Linked DNA regions of Homo sapiens. The protein of the gene in region 1 interacts with the protein of each later gene in a biochemical or structural test. Each region holds a gene or a part of one and is shown on either strand. Other genes may lie near its edges.

Region 1 (3,004 bases):
TACTCTCTGTGTACATTTCAGAGAGAGTAACTGGGACCAGGTTATAGAGGGCAATGTCATATTTAGAGGTTTAAATCATGTCCTGTAAGAAGTGTGAATCCATGGAAGAATTTTAGACAGCATATTCATGTGAGCAATATTCAGAGTATAATATTTTTTGATGACATCAAGAGAACATTATGAAAATCAAGCATTGTACAGTCCTACTGAGGTTTTTGAGACATAAAGTTATGTTTGTCTTCATACAAAATGATCCCAGTCTCATACTTTTTTGGTTTTCATTCTGACTTCTTCTAGTTTTATTCTTCCTGTCTTATTACTTGCTGTCAGGTTCTCAACTATTGCTTACTTATATCATTATAGTTGTCTACCTGATGCAACCTCAGACCCCTTTTTGATCGATTTGTAGCTGGAAAAACAAATAGGAGAATTGTGATTACAATTCCACACATATTTTGAATCGTCATTAAAATGATTGTTAGTAGCTTTTAAGTATTGCCACTGTTGTGCTCATTGAGTGCTCTGGCTTTGTGATATATCTTTCTAGTTACTTACAGGTTTTCCTCCCCGTACTTGGCAATTGGAGTTTTCAGGATAATGAAACACCAATTACCAATGAAACACCAATTAGTAGATAGATAAGTAGTAGACATAAGATAAAGATATGGGACTATGACAAGCACTAAACAAATGCAGGTAGCATAATACAATATATATTTTTTTAATTAGGCAGACATACAGATAGGAAATTCAAAGAAGAAAGAGCTGCAGATGTAAGATCTAGTATCCAGTTGCTTTGACCAGATCTCTTAGACAGTCATTTCATTTTCAAGTGCTCTCGTTGAGTCAAGACCTCAGACCCACACCAAGGGTTTGATGATGACATATCCTCTGATTTCATAGTTCAGAGCCTGCCAGTCCAGGATATTGGCAGGGAGAGGGGTACCCTGATAGGCAGACAGGATATTTTCTGGGGGCAGCACAGAGTCCCACATGTACAAATCCCCAATCTCTCCCACAAAGGACTGGCTCCTATCAAACTTGCCCCCATAGGAATCCTGTTCCTGCCCCAGGACAATCTTGGGCTGAGCTTCTACAAAGTAACCCTGTCGCAGACCCTTTTTCACCAAAGGTGTCCCATTGATCCAAAATTCAGCAATACCTGATGAGGACTCCCAGCTCACACAGATGTGCACTGGAGCCGGGAACTTTTCGATAACTTTGGATGTAACTTTGTGTCTTCCAATGTATAGACTATACTCTCCAACTCTTTCTTTATAAACTAGTAGCTCATTATCCCTGCCTTGGGTATTGTAGGAGAAGAGGCTGTAGGCACGAGAGAGATCACTATAGGCTCGAAAACACAAGGTAAAGTTCTGTAGAGGCTTCTCCAGCGGTGTGATCAAGTTTACATGATCAGTAACAGATTCTCTAGGAAATACAAACACCTTCCCACTGAGGTCTGCGGGATAAAGAAAGAAAGATAATGACCTTCAGTATAAATGCAGGGAAAAGATATCTCAGCTTCAACCTATTTTCTCACTTTATGATTCTTGACCATTCCTTCACCTCCTTACCTGTGTGAGCAAAGGCTTCCAGGAGGCTGGTGAGGACAGAGATCCAAAGCAGCGGCTTGTTCATATTCCTGGCCTAGGGCTGTTATAGCAGAAGCAGTGACCAGGATGAGGGTAGCAGACAACACAGTGGCTGTCCCCCTAGCGTCTGATATTCATGCCCTTAGACTTCAGGTTATTCAGGGTTTATATGCACCTTGGGTGAGGATGGGGGAGGAAGAGCACCAATAATATGTGAGTGATTTTCCAGGTCTGCCTCCTGGCGCTTACGGTGAAGGAGTGGTGAGCCCTGAGCTGGAAAATCAATGGGAGTTATTTATTAGAGACAAGTGATGGCTAGAGCTCCAACTCCTGTGACCCAGATTTTATTGCTGGGAAGAGAGTCATTGCAGGGCAGCAGGGTTATGGATGGGATGAGGCGCTGGGCTGGCCATGTCAGCAGAGCCTCTCTCTGCTCTCTGGGCCCCCTCTCTGATGGCTCTGTGCTCTGCCAGAAGCTCCTGAGCCACACAGAGTGTATCGCTGAGCTCAGCCCTCTTGTGGGCTATGGGAACAAGGCCTTTTCTTTCTTTTATAGTTCTCAAGTTGTCTTGTATTTGTAGGATATTCTAGGATTCTGCTTTCTGCTGAAGACCCTAAAAAGTGCCTTCAACTTTGACTAATTCAACATCAAGTAATACATCCAGGCAAAGCTAAGGGGAAAGAGGGACTTGGAGAATAAACTTTCTGTCCCCATGAAGCTTAGTATTTTTCTGCTACTTCTACTCAGTGCTTTTTTTTCGTTTGCATATCATGGTGCTTCCTTATCCTAGATCTTTCCATTTCTCATTACGACTTGTTTTCTGGTTACTTCATGCTACCTGCAGAGATGTCAGCATCTCCCCAAGTTTTTCTCTCCTCTTCTTTGAGTCCTTGGTCATTGAGTGTATATCTAATCCATCTTTGGTGATGACCCCACTAATACATTTATTCACTAGCTCTCAGTTACTACACTAGGTGCTGGGGATTCAGTGGTCACTGGCTCTCTCACAGCCCCAGAGATCTCCACCTTCATTCTTTCTATGTCTCCTTCATTCTCTCTCTGTACAGTTTATTAACCACCACTCAAACCTTCTCTGCCTCTGAGATATCAAACTGAAGTTCTTCTTTCTAGCCACATTATTTCTTTCTCTCTCATCCCTGAATTATATGGTGTCTTGTTTCTCATCCTACTGTTTAGCCTCTTGTTCACTCTCTCTTCTGTTAGCTCACCACAGACCTAATCAGCCTTTTCAATGACACAATCACTGCCACCAAGAATACACTTTCTCTATCATTGTTCAAAGTATCCTTCCTATTCTCATCCCTGGGGAGTTTCCATTCTCTACTTTTTTTCTCTAAATGGAATCCCAGGTTGTGAAGCCTTATCTGGCTTGTTGCACAGTATAGGT
Region 2 (3,831 bases), on another chromosome or scaffold:
CACCCTAGAAGGTTCCTTCATGCTCCTTCCTATTCCATATCATACCACCACCCCAAGAGGTGATCATATGGTTTTAACCTATGTCATTATAGATTAGTTTTGCCTGTTCTGGAACAACATACAAATGGAATCATACAGTATACTTTTGAGTCAGGCCTTCTCTTTCCTTCAACATTTGACTGTGAGATTCATTCATGTTGTTATATTTAATAGTAGTTTATTCTTTTTTATTGCTATACACTATTTTATTGTATAACTTTTTATTGTATGACTTCAATTTGCTTATCTATTTTCCTGTTGGTGGACATTTAGATTTTTTTCATTTTTTGGCTATCATGAATGAAACTGCTATGAGAGTTCTTGGGGCATATCTTTAGGTATATTTCTCATACCTTGGAGTAGACTTCTTGATTCATAGGGGTATATGCTTAACTTTAGTGGATACTGATGATTTTCCAAAGTGATTATTTCTACCAGCAATGGGTGAGGATTCCAATTATTTTTAATTCTTGACAGCATTTTGGTATTGTTAGGGATGTGTGGGTGTGTGGGTGTTGTTGATGTTGTTCACTCTTGACTGTACTTGGTATTGTGTGTGTGTGCGTCTGTGTGTGTGTGTGTGTATAGGTGTTGGTGTTGTTTGATTTTGGGGACAGTCTTTCTTTTTTTGAGAGACAGGGTCTCACTGTGTTGTCCAGGCTGAAGTGCAATGACTATTCACAGACACAGCCATTAGTATACTACAGCCTTGAACTCCAGGGCTCGGGTGATCCTCCTGCCTCAGCCTCCTGAATGACCAGGACTACAGGCACATGCCACTGCACCTGGCTTAGTCATTCTGGTGGATCTGTAGTCCCATTTTCTCTTTAGTACACAAAAATCAATTAATGAAATCTTTGGGTCTAATGAACCCATTGATTCATTGATTTCCACTGTCTTTAACGCTGATGTGGTATTTAGAAGTAGTTTGCTTTGTGTGAGTTCAGTTTAGACTTTAGCCATTAAGTTCAGTGATACACTGCATAACGACATTTCCGTCAGTGATGGACCACATATACAACTGTGGTCCCATAACATGATAATGGAGCTGAATAATTCCTTTTGCCTAGTGACATCTTGATGATCCTGACCCTGTGTAGGCCTAGGCTAATGTGTGTGTTGTCTCTTAGTTTATAACAAAAAAGTTTAAAAAGTTAAAAAAAATAAATTTTTTAAAAAATAGAAAAATGTTTGTAGAATACAGTATAAAGAAAATATTTTTGTGCTGCTGTACAATGTTTATGTTTTAAGATATCTTATTACAAAAGACTCAAAAAGTTTAAAAAATTAAAAAGTTTATAAAGTAAAAGTTACAGTAAGCTAAGGTTGTTATTGAAGGAAGAACATTTTTAAATAAATGTAGTGTAGCCTAAGTATGCAGTGTTAAAAGTTTACAGTGGTGTGCAGTAATGTCCTACGCCTTCACATTCATTGACTACTCACTCACTCACTCACCCTGAGGAACTTCAAATCCTGCAAGCTCCATTCATAAGTGCCCTGTGCAAGTATACTGTTTTTTATCTTTTATATCATATTTTTCCTGTCCCTTTTCTATGTTTAGATTCACAAATACTTAACCATCATGTTAAAATTGCCTTCAGTATTCAGTGCAGTCATATGTTGTAAATGTTTATAGCCTAGATGTGTAGTAGGCTATACCATCTAGGTTTATATAAGTACACTCTATGATGTTTATACAAGAATTAAGTCGTCAGTGACACATTTCTCAGACTGTATCCCCATGGTGAACTAACATGTGACAGTAAATACATGTGGCTTTCACTAGCCTTCTTTAGATCACAAGCATAATCTGTTCTCTTATGATTTTTGATGATCACGCTCTTCAGAGTAGTGTTTTTTTGGGAATAAGGGGAAATAGGAAGAGCTGTTTACATTTCCTGTAGCCAGAGTGACCATGAATCCTGGTTTGACCAAGGCAGTTCTTAATTCAGCAAGATTATTACTAACATTCCCTTTCGCTTTCAAAAGTGTGGTGCTTACATTACCCAATAGGGGGACCAAGCAAATCAGTCTTTTAGAAAATGGAATTTGGACAAGGTAAAAAAAAGAAAGAAAAGAAAAAAGCCATGTATGACTATTTGAAATGAGGAAATAAAAGCATTAGATTATTTACAAACATACTGGACTCCAGTATCAGTTTTGACCCAGTGAACCCCATTGTTGTGGAAATAAGTTTTATATGGGACCAACCTTTGTTATTTTAAGTGTTGACCCTGGGTCTTTTAACCTTTTAGAGCTATAGGCCCTATCATTAAAAGGAGAGTGTTAAAATACATAACTAAAGTCTTTTTCAACGCTAAAATACAGTCTTAAGCAGCAGTGAGAAAGTATAAGAAGGTTTTCTTTCTTAGAATATCTTTTTAGCATTCATTGATCCCACCTACTGAGTTCTTTTCTGGTATTACTTGCTGTTTTTCTTCATACCAAAATAAATGTATCTCTTAACTGGGGTTGGTGGGAAGGGGAAGTATAAGAATGTATAGTAGGTATTTTTCAGGTGCTAATTTACCTGGGTTTTTTTCTTTTCTTTTCTTTTTAAGTATACATGCAGTTACTTAACCATTTAAACACATAACCTACTTTTAAGGTGATTTTAGTGGTGATTTAAATCGTAGGTTGTGGCCGGGTGCAGTGGCTCACACCTGTAATCCCAGCACTTTGGGAGGCTGAGGAGGGTGGATCACGAGGTGAGGAGTTCGAGAAAAGCCTGACAAACATAGTGAAACCCCATCTCTACTAAAAATACCAAAATTAGCTGGGTGTGATGGCACAAGCCTGTAATCCCAGCTACTTGGGAGGCTGAGGCAGGAGAATTGCTTGAACCCAGGAGGCGGAGGTTGCAGTGAGCCGAGACCATGCCATTGCACTCCAGCCTGGGTGACAGAGCAAGACTCCGTCTCAAAAAATACATACATACATACATACATAAATAGTAGGTTGTAAGTAATTTATAGCCTAGAGAAAAGTGTTTTCTTGGGCAGAATAATACTCTTATTTTTCACAGGAGTGGAATTTTTTTGTGTCAAATTGTAAAATTTCAGTGAAATGTAGAGGAATTCCACCTAAAAGACTTCATTGTAATTAAAATGCCTGCCTCAAATTACAGATTTTTCACTTCTTTTTAATAGGAAACTGAGAAGAAAAGAAGAACAGAGGAAGCATATAAAAATGCAATGACAGAACTTAAGAAAAAATCCCACTTTGGAGGACCAGATTATGAAGTATGAATTTATATTTTGATCTTAGAGAAACACATAGATCATGTCTATCACAAAAGTGATTTTTTAATAATACTCTTGTAACCTTTAAATATTCTAAATATATAATTTTTTCCTCAGTGTTTATGTTAATTCAGTGTATATTTCATGATATATAAATGCCAGGCATGCTCAAATATATATTTCTTATTGCCTACAAAGTTTAGGCTTCAAAAGGCTTAGTATTAGGCCTGTTCACTTGATAGGACAAATTTTTATCTCCCCTGTAAAGATGATCATTTTTAATGTTATCTACTTTTTTTTTTTTTTTAACATAAAAGCAAACTATAAAGGAAAAATCTGAGTACTTTGCAGACAAAAAGATTTTAGTCTGTACTATACTGTGAGATCTTTTTTTTTTTTTTGAGACCGAGTCTCGCTGTGTCACCCAGGCTGGAGTGCAGTGGCGCGATCTCGGCTCACTGCAAGCTCCGCCTCCCGGGTTCACGCCATTCTCCTGCCTCAGCTGCCCTAGTAGCTGGGACTACAGGCACCCGCCACCACGCCTGGCTAA

What was found.
Region 2: the proteins of APCS (region 1) and CERT1 interact in a biophysical measurement, tested with the Homo sapiens proteins (one study listed by IntAct).

What each region holds. Positions count from the first base shown.
Region 1 is NC_000001.11:159,586,559-159,589,562, reverse strand, and holds APCS (serum amyloid P-component precursor), read right to left. Parts: upstream 1,738-3,004; 5' UTR 1,642-1,737; coding exon 1,578-1,641; intron 1,463-1,577; coding exon 855-1,462; 3' UTR 698-854; downstream 1-697. UniProt on the Homo sapiens protein: Can interact with DNA and histones and may scavenge nuclear material released from damaged circulating cells. May also function as a calcium-dependent lectin.
Region 2 is NC_000005.10:75,410,461-75,414,291, reverse strand, and holds part of CERT1 (ceramide transfer protein), read left to right. Parts: intron 1-3,188; coding exon 3,189-3,281; intron 3,282-3,831. UniProt on the Homo sapiens protein: Shelters ceramides and diacylglycerol lipids inside its START domain and mediates the intracellular trafficking of ceramides and diacylglycerol lipids in a non-vesicular manner.